4 separate regions of the Homo sapiens genome follow, and all the other regions are linked to region 1. The links come from fine-mapping of genetic effects on plasma protein levels. A gene starts in region 1. Each other region holds a variant in brackets. All regions are shown on one strand. Distances are between the middles of the regions.

Region 1 (4,169 bases):
TTCACCTAGCTCATGGTGTAGGTATAACCTGCTGCTTCTTTCAAAGAGTCTGTGGATTCTTTCAGTTTTCCTGTTCAGTTCCTGTGTTGCTTCTTGGGAAAAGAGTTCACAGTGAGAAGGTTTTTTTTTTTTTTTTTTTTTTTCAGATGGAGTCTCGCTCTGTTGCCCAGGCTGGAGTGCAGTGGTGTGATCTTGGCTCACTGCAACCTCCGCCTCCCGGATTCAAGTGATTCTCCTACCTCAGCCTCCCCAGTAGCTGGTATTATAGGCACCCGCCACCACGCCCGGCTAATTTTCATATTTTCAGTAGAAACGGGGTTTTGCCATGTTGGTCAGGCTGGTCTCGAACTCCTGACCTCAGGTGATCCACCCACCTCAGCCTCCCAAAGTGCTGGGATTAAAGGCGTGACCACCATGGCTGGCCCACAGTGAGAATTTTTTACTCACTATTTTGTCCTTCCAAGTGGTAGAGTCATGCTAACACTGCCTCCAATCTGCCATCTAAAAAAAAAAAAATTCCAATTTTTAAAAAATTTAGAATAATTTGATGAACAACAAACAGCTTGAAACACATGTGAATCCACAATGTGCACTTCCTCATAGATCTTTTATATGGTCTGGCTACCCCAACTGGAGCATTCTGACACTCCTTTATATTTAGCATGCTTGATTTTGCCCACCTATCACCTAACATCTGGAAAAGTTTTGGTAGAGTAATATAAGTCTATTGTACAGATTCAGGAAGAACTTTTAGACATTATCTAAAACAATCTTCTTGTCTTTCAGTTTAGGAAATGTAGATGCAAATTGTTAATTGTCCTCCCAAAGGCACAAGGTTGTTACTGATACCTGTCTTGTTATGGTTTGAATGTGTTTCCTGCAGAATTCAGGTGTTGCCAGTGTGGTAGTATTGAGAGAGGTGGGGCCTTTAAGAGATGATTAGTCCTTGAAGTCTTCTCTCTTGAGGATGGTATTAAGGCCTTTATAAAAGACGCTACATGTAGCATTTGGCTGGCTTGACCTTCTGCTTTCTGCCACGTGAGAATACCCTTCCTCCTCTACAGAGAGTGCAGCTCTCACCTGACATCCAAACCTGCCAGTGCCTTGATCTTAGATTTCCCACCTTCTGGAATGCTGAGAAATACATTTCTATTGCTTATAATTTATCTGGTCTCAGGTATCCTGTTGTAGGTCAGCACAAACAGACTAAGATGGGAATATAATTCTAATGTACTGATTCAGGAAGAATTTTTTCACATTACCTAAAACATTTTCTTCTCAGTTTAGGAGATTTAGGCACAAATGAACTGGCTTCCCCAAACCACATGGTGGTTAGTAATAGTTTTAAAAGTTTTTACTTCCAGTAAATTGTATAATTCCTCGTGATCATAATGTACCAAATGTGCTATAAAATGTTGAATCAAGTTCAGATACTATAAGAAAGACCACTACTCTGTTCTTGGAGAAAGGAAGGGGCTAGGTCCTATAATCTCTTCTCTTTTCACAAAGACACAGAGAGGTTAAACTAAGTGACTCCCTAAAGGATGGGTAAGAAACAGGGATGTGTGTCCTTCCAAGTTATTATTATTCTGCAGACTCTGAAGGAACCACAGTGCTACACCGTGCTATTGTAAGTTCTTGCCTTCTTTACAGTGAAGTTACATGAGAAATGCAAACAGGTAAACAAAAAAGACCTGAGAAAGGCCAACTTTTTGACAACTGTTTAGACTGAGACGGCCTAAACAGAAAACACATGCTATTTCCCCTCAGCCTGACTGATTTGGCATTCAGAGTACAAGCTCACAGGAGAGGGGCTGGGCCTGTCCAGTCAGGAATTGCAGTCAGAGACTTTCCCTGCCCCTCGCTGGGAAAGAACATTAGGAATGCCTTTTAGTGCCTTGCTTCCTGAACTAGCTCACAGTAGCCCGGCGGCCCAGGGCAATCCGACCACATTTCACTCTCACCGCTGTAGGAATCCAGATGCAGGCCAAGTACAGCAGCACGAGGGACATGCTGGATGATGATGGGGACACCACCATGAGCCTGCATTCTCAAGGCTCTGCCACAACTCGGCATCCAGAGCCCCGGCGCACAGGTACCCTGTCTCCTGGAGTCCAAATAGACCACAGTCCTTGTGAAATGTGTGAGATGATCTATCCCTCCTAGAAATGGAGATATTTAGCTTGCATCTTATAATTTTATTTCCAATTACTCGCCCTGTGACATAGTAGTGATTTTTTTTTTTCAGTTATATTCAGTTCCATAATTCCCACACTTAGAGAAGGATTTTATTTCCTGGGCCACTCAGCCAATCTAAAGCTAAAATATGACTTCAGTTCTAGTGAAAAGGACTCACATGGTAATATACACAGGACTAGGTTCTAGGTCCTAAACCAGGTATGCCACTTTCCTTCTGTGTAACTTTGGATGAGTTGTTTAAGTATCCTGGTAGCATCATATTCTTTATTTATAAAATATTAACGGCCACAAACATGTATAAAGGGCTCATTATGTGCTGGCAGTGTTTTAAATACTTTAAGTATATTAATTCATATTAACTTGACTTAATATTAAATAGAAGTAATAAAACTTCCTTTACAAGGTGGTTGTGAGTACTGAGAATGATAAATTATGTAAAATATTTGAATGTCTGTCTGATCTGATATAGACTGACACAAAATTGCTGAAAGGAACACTTTAGGTTCTTAAGAAATGGAATGTTGAAAGGAATCCCACATTTTAACATTCATTCAGTGCCTGTGTTTTAATATGCCCTTTCCCTTCTGATTATATCATTGTTTTCTTCACCTTTGTAAATCTGGATATACCTTTAAAAAAAAAAAACTATCCTGTTCCTTATTTCTTTATCAAATAACTTTTAGTTTTCCTTCCTTTCTCCTACTAAACCCTCCATTCACTTTCTATTTATTTCTATTTATTAAATGACCCTCCACCTGAAACCTACTAATATGGCTTTTTTTTTTTTTAACTAAACTACCCAGTAAGCTGTTAAGGGACATTGGGGATTTCCAACCTCTTTGAAATGAAGCTAAGTGACAAAAGTAGGGATGTCAGCTTTTGTAGCCACAGGATATGTGTAATAGGATACAAAGCGTTTTCCTCCAAAAAAACTTACGAAGAGTCCATTTTTACGGCTGTGGTTTTGAGTAGCTTGTATATAACTTCATTTTCCACCTTTGACTGGAGCCAGGAACTCTGTCAAGGACTAGAGATCAGCATAATTAAGAACAGCATGTACAAATAAGTTCTGCTGAGGTTGAAGGGTGGAGAGGGAGGTGGAGCAAGATAAAACACTAGCTGCAACATCTGGGAGCTTCTTTGTAAGAAATGGATATTGAAACAGTAGAAGTGGAGATTACAAAGAATTGTCTTGGAAGAAATCATCTGGAAATAGTTATCTTAGGCAACATATATGAGATCTTGTTTTCATCTTTTTATGGTAATACAAACATTTAGGGGAATACCATCATAGAAGTATAATTATTTCTTAGATAAACATATCTGATATACCTTCGCTGATAAAAATAACAGCAGAAATCACTCAGAAATTTTCGGCAATGTGGAGGATTCAGATTCAACATAATGATGTGATACCATTAAGAGCTGGCAACTTTTATTTTTTAGAATTAATAAAAATAAATCACACACACATTCATTTAATTTCTAGACTTTTGTCAATAACAATTGACGTAACAACTATGTTTGTGTTTAAAAATGCCAAACAATTAAGATAGTAAAAATGCCAAACAATTAAGATAGTGAAAATGAAAAACAACAACCTCATACATTTTTCACAAACTTATGTTTGGGGTCATGTTATCCTAGTACTGAGGATATAATGTCCAATGTGATATGGTCCCTGTTCATAAGGAAATTGAAAGTCTAATACAATTCTCAACTAAGGAGTAAGTATAATAAGGTGTTATGGCAGAAGCATGTACAGTACAGCCGAGAGCTTAACCAAGCTCTCGGCTTAATTTTTACCTAATTAAGTAGAGGAGTTCAGGAAAGGCTTAACAGAAGGAGCAACTGTGGAGTTGAGTTAATTTTAACATCTTCCACATAATAAGGAATCGGGAGTGAGGGTGTTTGAGAGGCTGGGGACACTATAGACAGAGAGACGTATGAAGGGAAAGTCATGAAGGTTT
Region 2 (4,169 bases), 21 kb after region 1:
TTTCTTGTATTTTTAGTAGAGATGGGTTTTCACTGTGTTGGGCAGGCTGGTCTTGAACTCCCAACCTCAGGTGTTCCCCCTGCCCCAGCCTCCCAAAGTGCTAGGATTATAAGCGTAAACTACCGTGCCCAGCATTTATTTACAAATTTTTCTAACAAAGCCCAGTGTGCATACTTTCCTTTGTTGGTTGCCATATCTTCAAAAAGATAATCCACTACTTGACAGGCTGAGGCTAGAAGATTGAGCTGAGGAGATCAAGACCAGCCCAGGCAATATAGTAAGATACTATCTCAAAAATTATTTTTATTTTTATTTTTACTTTTATTTTTAATTTTTTTTTTTAAGACAGAGTCTCGCTCTGTCACCTAGACTGGAGTGCAGTGGCATGATCTCGGCTCCCTGCGGTCTCCATCTCCTGGGTTCAAGTGATTCTCGTATCTCCTCTTGGGTAGCTGGGATTACAGGCATGCACCACCACATCTGGCTAATTTTTGTATATTTTAAGTAGAGACGGGGTTTTTCCATGTTGCCCAGGCTGGTCTTGAACTCTGGCCTCAAGTGATCTGCCCGCCTCAGCCTCCCAACTGCTGGGATTACAGGCATGAGCCATTGCACCTGGCTAAAAAAAATTTTTTTTTAAGGTAACCGAGATTTTCCTAACACAAATGGTCTTTCAAATTTTTATTTAGGTATATAAAAACAAACAAAAAGAGAAGCTATGCAAATAAGTTACATTTAATTTAAATATAAAATCTAAATGCAAATATATTAATGCTGCTTCTCATAAAAAATTCTTACATATTTTTGGTTAGATGTCAGTTCTCAGTTTTAATCTGCTACTTTTTATTTCTTACCCTCATCTTACCCATTATCCATCCATCCATCCACCCACTGAAGTGATATTTATGCATTTAGTTCGTACTGCTACCAGTGTGGTTGGAGTATTTACTGAATGCCTACTGATGCATATCTGACAAAACACACAGGATGTCTACTCTCATGGACCACTTACTCTAGTGGGGTAGTAGAAGTAAGTATATTGAAAAACATAAGATGACTAATGTCTTTGTCTGTTTGTGTTGCTATAAAGGAGTACCTGAGCCTGGGTAATTTATACAGAAAAGAGTTTTATTTGGTTAATGATTCTGCAGGCTATACAAGAAACATGGTGCCAGCATCTGCTTCTTCTGAGAGCCTCAGGCAGCTTCCACACATGGGGGAAAGTGCAGCAGGTAATATGACAAGAGTCCAGGAGGCAAGAGATTGGGGAGAGACATGCCAGGCTCTTTTTAACACTCAGTTCTCCTGGGACTCATAGAGCGAGAACTCACCAAGCTGTTCATAAGGGATCTGCTTCCCTGACCGAGACACTTCCCATTAGGCCCCACCTCCAGCACTGAGGATCAAATTCCAATATGAGATTTGGAGGGGACAAATGTTCAAACTATATCAACCAGCATTTCCAAGTTGGCCCCCAACGTTCCTTATTTTAGTACTAAAAGTCCCACATTCTGGGAAACTCTAGGTCCCAGGTATACAGTAATGATCGGCCAACCTAAATACAATGTATGAGAGATTAATCAATCCTATGAGAAATGAAGGTAAACAAGGCAAGAGGGATAAGGAATTCCAGGGTAGTCTGTTGCTACTTTAAATAGAGCTGTCGTAAATCCTGAATTAAGATGATTATATGGTAGCAAAGACTTGAAAAGTTGAGGGAGTTAGCCATGTAATATAGAGAAATAATAAGCTTTAAGTTAAAACAGGAAACAAAAGAGCCTTAAAACATGAATGTATCTGCATATTCCAGGAATAATGAGGAGCTCATGCGGTTGGAGTGGAAGACTAACAGGAGGCTAGGTAGAGATAATGTACAGCATTAGGTGCCTTTGTGAGAGATTTGGCTACTATTTTGAGCAGATGAGGATTAATTATGGGGTTTTAAGCAGAGGAAATACATGATCTGGCATAAGTTTTTAAAGGCTTAATCTACATTCTGTTAAAATTAGACTGGAAGAGGAAAGAATAGCAACAGAGAAATCAGATAAGAGATGGCTGTTACTAAAATCTAGGAGAAATATGATGGTTCTTCTAACTAGGATATTGTTTGTGGAAATGATGGCATGATGGGATATAAATTGATGTGTGAGAAATGAAAGATTCAAAAACAGCTCCAGAATTTGGGGTCAAAACAACTAGAAGCATAGAGATGTGGTCGAGTGAAAGGAAGAAGAATTCTCTGGCTACAAGGGGAAGATTAGAAACCAGGAATGCTGTTTGGGGAGTTAGATATATGAGG[G/A]AAAATTCTGGGCCAGACACATACACAGACTTACATTCCTTTTGCCCAAAACACAGCAAAAATAAAGGAGAAATGGAGAGAGAAAGGACTATAAGAAAAAAAAAGACGATTAGCCTTTTCTTTGGATGACATATTTTCATGTATTTATGAAATGGAATGCCCGTCCTGGGGTTATTGGCCTTGCTAATATGAACATTATTGTTTATTGATCCTAAATATCTATAAACATTTATTGCACTATATAATATAAAAATGGTAATTTATAGGTAAAGAGAGTTCATAGAAAGTGTACATGTTCCGTTTAGAAATTAGTATTTTATTTTTCCTAGGTGTATATGCCATGGACAAAACATTTGAGAACAGTTCATTTTCAGTCCACCCGTTTTTCCGGCCAAAAATATGCATTTTTCTCCTTTAAAAATATATATTTTTGGGGGGAGCAGAGAGGTGGGGAAAACAGGGTCTCACTCTGTTGTCTAGGCTGGAATGGAGGGTATATGTATCTGTATATCTATCTATATCTATGTCTGTACCTATATCTATATGTATATAGAGAGAAATGAATTTCTTCTAATCTGTATTCTATTTTCCTCCTCCAATGGTTTAAGTAATAGTATATCAAATATTAGGTAGTTGAAGTTAAGAAAGTAAAGAAGTTTCTCTATCTCTGTCTCTTTAGTTACATAGTATCACTACCTATTTCACATAAGGCTCTCAGTCCTTTAGTCTCTCACCTTTTGATCTAATTGTCCCTTGCTTCCTCCTAAACATTCATTGAAAATTTCTCTATTAATTCCCCTACAAGTAGGAGACTTGTTTTTACATAGAGCACATAGAGGGTCACTTATCATATCTGAAGACTGAAGGTATTTAAGAAAACATTGTATGTGAGACTGGAATGAGGTATTAATACACTGTACCAAAATTGCAGTTACATAGTTTTTATTTATTGAATCCAGAGCAGAATGAACCAAGATTCTCCTTGCTGAGTCCAGTTGCTGCTTCATAATCTTTTTCAGCACAGCACTCCAAGCATATATCACCCATCTAAGTTCTCACAACAACAGGGACCATAGTTGAAACGGACCTTTATTAAATGCTTTTTATGCATAAGTCTCTGCACAAACTGGACTCTGTTTTTTACGTATTTACTCTTTACAATAATCCTTTTAGGTAAGCATCATTCCCATTCTTGTTCTGTGTTTTAGAACGTCTGAGGCTCCCTGCATTTTTGCTTGAGTCTCTCCAGGTTGTTACATTTCTCCTGGTAGAATTCTGAAGCAAGCCGACCTGTCTGAGAGAGTGCAAAAGCTATTGAGCTCCACAGCAAGTTTTTCATAACATGACAAAGATATCCTTCTAAGTTATTTATTTATTTATTTATATTTTGTTTTACTTCATGAAATATTTCAAATTTACAAGAAGATATAAACAATAATATAACACCTACCTGTGTATTAGCCACTGAGATTTTAACATGTTAACTAGATCGCTTTTAAAATAAAGAAATTGTTATAGATATGACTTGGGTTCTCATCCCACTACAGACCCACAAGAGACTGGATTAGGTTCCTAACTCTAAATGACCCAAGGTCATGTATCCACATAGGGTTAAAACTATAGCTCTCAGGGCTTGGCACCTATATTTGCGATCACTACCCATACTTCTCTGGCCTGGATGCCCAATTTAATTTGTGACACATGGAGATTCAGCATTCTAACTTCAGGCTTGCCTCAGTATTTTTTTCCTTAAAAAGACTCCACATCATATTGGTATATACCGTATTTTTTAAAACTTATTTTACTATTATGTAAGATAATTTTGAGGAGAACATTATAGAAACTTTATTTCCTAAACACAATGCAGTTG
Region 3 (4,169 bases), 27 kb after region 1:
ATTTATAGATAGAAATTTAAAAATTTCTTTCTTCTCTTCCTAGTCTAAGACATAAATCATCCTTGCAAATTTTTCTTTTACTTTTTTTCTTCCTTTCCCAGGTATTTATAACGGTTACTACCTCATTCCTGCACTTTTCCCTCCATATTCTTCCATGTCCCAGAATCATTCTGCATCTCTTTGTTAGTCTTTCCCTCATATTTTTATGTCAACATTAATGTTTAATTCTGTGCCTTAAAAGCCATGGGTCAGGAACAAATCTTGGTTGATGTGATTTCCGCTTTCAGAATATCGACATGTGTTCCATATTTACTAAGACAAAATAAGTTATTAAACCTGGACAAATTTCTGACTGGCCTCAGCATAGATGCTTTTTCTCTTAAGCATATGAGCATCAATGTGAAGCAGGACTTGTGTGTGCTTTGAGAAAAGTGCTGGCTGGCCCATGCATGTCTGTACATGTGAGTAATCATGCCACCAAAGCTAAAGCTTTTCTTATGTGCTTTTCACAGGAATTTGCCGCGTCTCAGAGCTACTCTGAGTTTTTCTACTCTTATTGGACAGGGCTTTTGCGCCCTGACAGTGGCAAGGCCTGGCTGTGGATGGATGGAACCCCTTTCACTTCTGAACTGTAAGCCTTCAGGATATTTTATGGGAAAGGCATTTAACAAAGATATTTTGCTTGAGTGATAGAGCTCAAGAATTTGGTCCATCAAGTATTAATCAAACTTCTGCTTTGTACTGGATACTGTGTTTGCAGGAGGATGCCTGAAGATATTTGAACAATAGTGCATCCTCATTTTGTTTGTGTGTGTGTGTGTGTTTGTTCGTTTGATTGTTTTTTGAGATAGGGTCTTGTTCTGTTGCATGGGCTGGAGTGCAGTGGTGCAAGCTCTGCTCACTGAAACCTCTGCCTCCCAGGCTCAAGCTCTCCTCTCACCTCAGCCTTCTGAGTAGCTCGGACTACAGGCGTGCACCACTACATGCAGCTAATTTTTTGTCTTTTTTGGAAAGACAGGATTATGATGTGTTGCCCAGTCTTGTTTAGAACTCCTGGACTCAAGTGATTTGCCCATCTTGGCCTCCCAAAGTGCTGAGATTACAAGCATGAGCCACCGCACCCGGCCAGTGCCTGCTTTTGAACTGCTTATAAGCCAGTGAGGGAGACAGATACATAGCATTAGTAAAATATCAGGGTAGTTCTCTTGCTGCTTTCAGAAGTTTGTGTCTGGGACATACTGCAGATGAGAGAAGGGAGAGACAGAGAGAGAGAGAGAGAGAGAGAGAGATCTTTCCCTGAGTGAGTAAATTGAAGCCCAGGAGTCCAGGCTGTAATGGTGGTTGCCTAAAGTCACACAACTTGTCAGTACCCAGAGATAGCATAAGAGTTCTTGGCTTTCTGTGCAGCAAAATAGGGAGCACATCTTTTAAAAAACACAATCTCTGAGAAAAGATTTGCTGAAAATGTAAGGGGTAATATAAAACACTAGTCGTACATATGCTGTGAGCATTTAGACAGGAGTACATATGGTATCTGTGTTAGTCCATTTTTGCATCAGCATAAATGAATGCCTGAGGTTGGATAGCTTATAAAGAAAGGAGGTTTAATTGGCTCACAATCCTGCAGGCTGTACAAGCATCTGCTTGGCTTCTGAGGAGGCTTCAGGGAGCTTTACTCATGGCAGAAGGCGAAGCAAGAGCTGGCATGTCCAATGGCAAGAGAGAACACAAAAGAGAAGGGGCTGGGGGGAGGTTCCAGGCCCTTTTAAGCCACCAGATCTTGCATCAACTAACTGAGTGAGAACTCACTCATCACCAAGAAGAGGGCACCAAGCCATTCATGAGGGATCCACCCCGATGACCCGAACACCTCCCACCAGGCCCCATCTCCAACACTGGGGATAACATTTCAACTAAGATTTGGAAAGAACACACATCCAAACCACATCAGTATCCTTTGAAAGAGGAAATTGTAATTTCTCTATCAAAATATATCACATTTAAAGCCATATTTGAACAGACACCATTCTTCCCTATATACAATATATCATTATTCTCCCAGGAGACAGGATATATTTGATGTAATCATTTGTATTTTACAGTTAAGTAAACTGAGTTACAGAGAAGGTAGAGAACTTTTTAAGTGGCAGAAACACTATATAAATTTGGAGGAGAACACGTAGCTTCGCTTTAGTTAGAAATGGTTTTTGCTGTTTGGGGTGACCTGCTGTTTCTAAGAATGAGTATGGAAACTTAGGGGCTGAAGAGAAAGAGGCACATGACCCCAGTTTCCCGGTAAACTTATTCTGGTATCTAGACTATAATTTTATAACTCTAGAAAGAATGGGTATTTAATATTTTATTTTAGAAATAAACCGTGATTGAATTTACTTTTTCTTCCTTTCTTAAGGTTCCATATTATAATAGATGTCACCAGCCCAAGAAGCAG[A/C]GACTGTGTGGCCATCCTTAATGGGATGATCTTCTCAAAGGACTGCAAAGAATTGAAGCGTTGTGTCTGTGAGAGAAGGGCAGGAATGGTGAAGCCAGAGAGCCTCCATGTCCCCCCTGAAACATTAGGCGAAGGTGACTGATTCGCCCTCTGCAACTACAAATAGCAGAGTGAGCCAGGCGGTGCCAAAGCAAGGGCTAGTTGAGACATTGGGAAATGGAACATAATCAGGAAAGACTATCTCTCTGACTAGTACAAAATGGGTTCTCGTGTTTCCTGTTCAGGATCACCAGCATTTCTGAGCTTGGGTTTATGCACGTATTTAACAGTCACAAGAAGTCTTATTTACATGCCACCAACCAACCTCAGAAACCCATAATGTCATCTGCCTTCTTGGCTTAGAGATAACTTTTAGCTCTCTTTCTTCTCAATGTCTAATATCACCTCCCTGTTTTCATGTCTTCCTTACACTTGGTGGAATAAGAAACTTTTTGAAGTAGAGGAAATACATTGAGGTAACATCCTTTTCTCTGACAGTCAAGTAGTCCATCAGAAATTGGCAGTCACTTCCCAGATTGTACCAGCAAATACACAAGGAATTCTTTTTGTTTGTTTCAGTTCATACTAGTCCCTTCCCAATCCATCAGTAAAGACCCCATCTGCCTTGTCCATGCCGTTTCCCAACAGGGATGTCACTTGATATGAGAATCTCAAATCTCAATGCCTTATAAGCATTCCTTCCTGTGTCCATTAAGACTCTGATAATTGTCTCCCCTCCATAGGAATTTCTCCCAGGAAAGAAATATATCCCCATCTCCGTTTCATATCAGAACTACCGTCCCCGATATTCCCTTCAGAGAGATTAAAGACCAGAAAAAAGTGAGCCTCTTCATCTGCACCTGTAATAGTTTCAGTTCCTATTTTCTTCCATTGACCCATATTTATACCTTTCAGGTACTGAAGATTTAATAATAATAAATGTAAATACTGTGAAGTGTGTGTGATTTTACAATGGACTTATGGTTGGTGGGAAAATTCAGCATGGAAATGCTTTTCAAAATATGATAGCGGTCATTATTTTGATTGTGCCTTACTGAAAGTTTTTGGGGAATTTACAAGAGTACTGATTACATGATTATCTGGAGAAAATAAGATGTCTTTGAAATACGTGTTGGCTTCAAGAAAACAGTTTTAACGTTTTCCTAAAATGAAATCTTTTGAGGTGAGCTTATGGCATCAACACATGGTTGATGAGGAAGCTGAGTTGCATTAGTGCACATGATTTCCAGTCAGGTCATGGGAAATGAACAGAGACAGTGACATCTTTGTAGCTGCTCCTTTGTGAGGCACTTCTTTCTTGAGACGACTCCATGCACAAATATAACAGGGATCATTGGGAATGACACCATCACAGCCACCAAGTTTATTGGTTTACTGATAAATCAATTTTGAGGGTTTTATGCTAGAAAAGATAACATTATAAATCTTTGTTTTTCAACAGTGGAAACTGAGGTGCTTCAGTTTTGTTTTTCATAAACATCTATCTCATGGTAAAATGACGTATAGTAGCAATCATATGATAGAAAGAACACATTGGTGCTCATTTTCATAAACTTCATTTTGTTAGATTGTCACTTAGCAAAGACTATTGCGGATTCTTCCTTGAGAACTTTCCTTTCAATTTTCTGTTGATTTCCTTAAAATTTTCTTCAGGGTCGAG
Region 4 (4,169 bases), 57 kb before region 1:
GTTTGTTTTTGAGACAGAGTTTCGCTCTTGTTGCTCAGGCTGGAGTTCAGTGGCACAATCTCAGCTCACTGCAACCTCCGCCTCCTGGGTTCAAGCAATTCTCCTGCCTCAGCCTCCCAAGTAGCTGGGATTACCGGCGCCCGCTACCACTTCCAGCTAATTTTTGTATTTTTAGCAGAGACGGGGTTTCACCATGTCGGCCAGACTGTTCTCAGACTCCTGACCTCAGGTGATCCACCCACCTCAGCTTCTGAAAGTGCTGGGATTACAGGCGTGAGCCACCGCCCCAGGCAAATTTTTATAAGCTTATTTACCATCTGTATTAGGTAACTTTGATAAAGTAACTGTATAAATCTTTTGAGAATTTTTACTTGGTTTATTTTTCTTACTGTTGAGTTTGAGAACTTTATATATTTGGGATAAAAACCTTTTATCAGATATGCATCTTGAAATGTTTTTCTTGTCTTGTCTTTTTTTTTTTTTTTTTGAGAGGGAGTCTCACTCTGTTGCCCAGGCTGGAGTAGTGCAATCCCAGCTTACTGCAACTTCCGCCTCCCAGGTTCAAGTGATTCTCCTGCCTCAGCCTCCCAAGTAGCTGGGATTACAGGTGCCCACCACCATGCCTGGCTAAGTTTTTGTATTTTTAGTAGAGATGGGGTTTCACCATGTTGGCCAGGCTGGTTTTGAACTCCTGACCTCAAGTGATCTGCCTGCCTTGGCCTCCCGAAGTACTAGGATTACAGGTGTGAGCCACCGCCCAGCCTGTCTTTTCATTCTTTGAACAATATACTCATAAAGCAGAAGTTTTTTATTTTAATGAAGTCCATTTTTATTATTCTGCTGTGGTTTGTAAGAACTCATTGACTAACTCAAGGTCACAAAAATTTTCTCCTTTATTTTTTTCTAGACATTTTATAGCTTCAGGTTTTATACTGAGGTCTATGATTTATTTGGGATTAATTCGACAAATGTAAATTTGTCGAAAAGACTATTTTTCTTTACTAAATTGCTTTTGCACCTTTATCACCAATCAGTTGTCTGTATATTCATGGGATTATTTCTAAACTCTCTATTTTATTCCACTGATTGTTGTATTTTTGTATTTGCGTATTTATACACCACCACCACATTATTTTGAATACTGTAGTTTTATAATAAATCTTAAAATCATGCAGTGACAGTCCTTCAAATTTATTTTTCTTTTGCAAAGTTACATTGGCTGAGCTATGTCACTATATTTTCCATATTGATTTTTGAATTGGCTCACTAATTTCTACAAAAACTCTTTTGGAATTCTGATTGTGATTACATTGAATCTACAAATCGATTTGGGCAGAATTGAAACCTTAAAAATATTGATTTTTCTGACTCTTGAATAAAGTATGTCTCTGCATTTATTTAGGTATTTTAAAATTTCTCTGAGCAATGTTTTGCAGTTTTCTCTTACAGATATTTTTACATATTTTGTTAGCTTACCATATATACTTCATAGTTTCGACGCTACTGTACATGGGAATTATCATTGATAATTTTAATTTCCAACTGTTTATTGCTAGTATGGAGAAATATAATAGACTTTTAAATATTCACCTTATATTCTGAAACCTTGATAAACTTATTTGTTTCTTCTAGTAACTTTTTTTGTAGATGTCATCAGATTTTCTACACAAATAATCATTCTGTGTGCCAGCGGAAGCACTTCTATCTTTTCCTTTCCAATGCTTTTATTCTTTTCCTTGCCTGAACCTCCCGTTCAATGAGAAATAAAAGTAGTGAGAACAATATCCTTATTTTGAAATTGATCTTGAGAAGAGATCATTCAGTGTTGCACCACTAAGTATGGTGTAAACTGTAGATGTTTCATAGACGTCCTTAATCAGTTTTAGGAAGTTCCCTTTTGTTCCTTGCATTCTTAGAGGACTGATCAGGAATAGGTGTTAATTTTGTCTAATATTTTTCTACATCTATTGAGATGATTATA[T/G]ATACATTTTTATTTTAAAAATATCTAGTATTTTCTTTGTTTTTTTTTAGGTTAAAAATTTCTAGTCTTTTAACATGAATTACACTCATTAATTATATAAGGTTAAAACAATTTAGGATTGCATTATATTAATGGATTAGATCTGTTATATGTATTATATTATGGGTTATTTCTGTTAAAATTTGGCTTAGAATGTTTGCAACTATATTTATGGGTTTTTTGTTTCTGTTCATTTTGTTCTGGTTTTTTAGAGGTAGAGTCTTACTCTGTTGCCCAGGCTGGACTGCAGTGGCACGACCACAGGTCACTGAAGCTTTGACCTCCCAGGCTGAAGTGATCCTCCTGCCTCAGCCTCCAAAGTAGCTGGGACAACGGTGACCACAGGCATGCACCATCATCCCCAGCTAATTATTTTAATTTGAGAGAAAGAGACAGGCTCTTCTTATGTTGCCCTGGCTGGCCTTGAAGTCCCAGGTTCAAGTGATCCTCCTGCCTCGGCCTCTCAAAGTGTTGGGATTACAGGTGTGACCCACCATGCCTGGCCAGTACTTTTTTTTTTTTTTTTGAGGTGGAGTTTTGCTCTGTCGCCCAGGCTGGAGTGCAGTGGCGCGATCTTGGCTCACTGCAACCTCTGTCTCCCGGGTTCAAGCGATTCTCCTGCCTTGGCCTCCTGAGTAGCTGGGATTACAGGCACCCCCCACCATACTCAGCAAATTTTTGCATTTTTAGTAGAGATAGGGTTCCACCATGTTGGCCAGGGTGGTCTCGAACTCCTGACCTCAGGTGATCTGCCCGCCTAGGCCCCCAAAGTGCTGGGATTACAGGTGTGAGCCACCGTGCTTGGCCATGGCCAGTATTTTTAAACATAGTTTTCTTTTCTCTTTATGACTTTGCCTTATTTGAATATCAGATAAATATTTCTCAATGTCAATTTTTCTGGAAGATTTGGTTTAGAATTAGTACTATTTCTTCATTAAATGTTTGATACAATTTACCCTTGAAGTCATCTGGGCATAGGGTTTTCTTTGTAGTAAGGTTTTCAACTACAGATTCAGTTTCTTTTTTTTCTTTTTTTTGAGACGGAGACTTGCTTTGTCGCCCAGGCTGCAGTGCAGTGGCACCATCTCGGCTCACTGCGACCTCCGCCTCCCGGGTTCAAGCGATTTTCCTGCCTCAGCCCCCAAGTAGCTGGGATTACAGGCGCGAGCCACCATGTCCCTCTAATTTTTGTATTTTAGTAGGGGCGGGGTTTCACCATGCTGGCCAGGCTGGTCTCGAACTCCTGACCTTGTGATCCGCCCGCCTCAGCCTCCCAAAGTGCTGGGATTACAGGCGTGAGCCACCGCACCCGGCCAGATTCAGTTTTTTTTAGATGTTGAGCTGTTCAAAGGATTCCTTCTTCAATGAGCTTTGGTGGTTACTTTCAAGGAATTTATGAGCTTCATCTAAGTTGTTTAATTTATTGGCATACCATTTTTAAAAATTATTTGAATATCTGTAGAATCTTTAGCATTGCCACTTCCTTCCTGACAGTGTTAATTGTATCTTTTTTTTTTAAAACTAATCGGCTTAGCTAGAGATTTATCAATTTCATTTTTCTTCTCAAAAAAGCTATTTGGTCAACAGAGACAAGATGGCCAAATAGACGCAGACAGGAAGCACCACTCCCGCTGACAGAAAGGGAGACCGGGAACCCTTTCAGGTTCTGGAACACCAGTGCCAGTTCCTGGCCCTGAACAACCCTTGGCAAGGCAGCCCACTCTTGCTGTGGACCTCTAGGATTCCAGCCACAAGAGATCCTACACTCCCCATAAACATTCGAACTGGCATGGGGATATGCCCTACAAGCAGGCAGAGGCAGAACTCCAGCCTGCATAGAGCCCGGTTTTTGTTGTTGTTGTTGTTTGTTTGTTTGTTTTGCGTTGGGGGCAGTTCCAGTGGAACATGGCCATGCGCACCCATCCCCCAAGGCTCTCCGTCCTCTTCCGAATAACTCTAACCCCACTGACTGCCGCGCAAAGAGAACAGCAGGGTCGACTTTCCCTTCGGAGTGGGGCACTTCTGTTCCGCAGGACCTCCTGCCCTCCAGCCCCTCTCAAGTCCTCTGCCTGGCCGCTCTAGGAGCCTGTCAACGGTGCAGACTCCACTGCCCATCCTGGGTGCTTTGCAGGCCGACATGCCTGACTGA

Direction of the effects. Positions count from the first base shown, and alleles are read on the strand shown. Strength reflects both the effect of a copy and how common the allele is.
In carriers of allele G in region 2, the plasma level of the protein whose gene starts at base 1,918 in region 1 tends to be higher than with A alone (strong association).
For the plasma level of the protein whose gene starts at base 1,918 in region 1, allele C in region 3 goes with a lower level than allele A (strong association).
For the plasma level of the protein whose gene starts at base 1,918 in region 1, G is the low allele of the variant in region 4 and T is the other (weak association).

What was found. PIP is the posterior inclusion probability: the model's chance that the variant is causal. The UK Biobank Pharma Proteomics Project read protein levels with antibody pairs (Olink). The fine-mapping took linkage between variants from a reference panel, not from the people measured, so its PIPs are less certain.
Region 2: its variant is fine-mapped to the plasma level of the CLEC1A protein (UK Biobank, PIP above 0.99).
Region 3: its variant is fine-mapped to the plasma level of the CLEC1A protein (UK Biobank, PIP above 0.99). The variant lies in the coding sequence of CLEC1A. If it changes the protein, the assay may bind it differently, which can mimic a change of level.
Region 4: its variant is fine-mapped to the plasma level of the CLEC1A protein (UK Biobank, PIP above 0.99).

The regions. Positions count from the first base shown.
Region 1 is chr12:10,096,734-10,100,902 of GRCh38, reverse strand. CLEC1A (C-type lectin domain family 1 member A) reads left to right here and starts at 1,918. Exons shown (of 6, transcript NM_016511.4): 1 at 1,918-2,095. The coding sequence starts at 1,981.
Region 2 is chr12:10,075,992-10,080,160 of GRCh38, reverse strand. All of the region lies in intron 3 of CLEC1A (C-type lectin domain family 1 member A), which reads left to right. Among named protein-coding and RNA genes, the nearest start is that of CLEC1A, 21 kb to the left of the region's middle. The variant G/A (reference allele first, on the strand shown) is at 2,300.
Region 3 is chr12:10,069,755-10,073,923 of GRCh38, reverse strand. It overlaps CLEC1A (C-type lectin domain family 1 member A), which reads left to right. Exons shown (of 6, transcript NM_016511.4): 5 at 513-631; 6 at 2,411-4,169. The coding sequence ends at 2,591. Among named protein-coding and RNA genes, the nearest start is that of CLEC1A, 27 kb to the left of the region's middle. The variant A/C (reference allele first, on the strand shown) is at 2,450.
Region 4 is chr12:10,153,849-10,158,017 of GRCh38, reverse strand. No RefSeq gene overlaps it. Among named protein-coding and RNA genes, the nearest start is that of OLR1, 16 kb to the left of the region's middle. RefSeq lists an enhancer at 4,085-4,169. The variant T/G (reference allele first, on the strand shown) is at 1,982.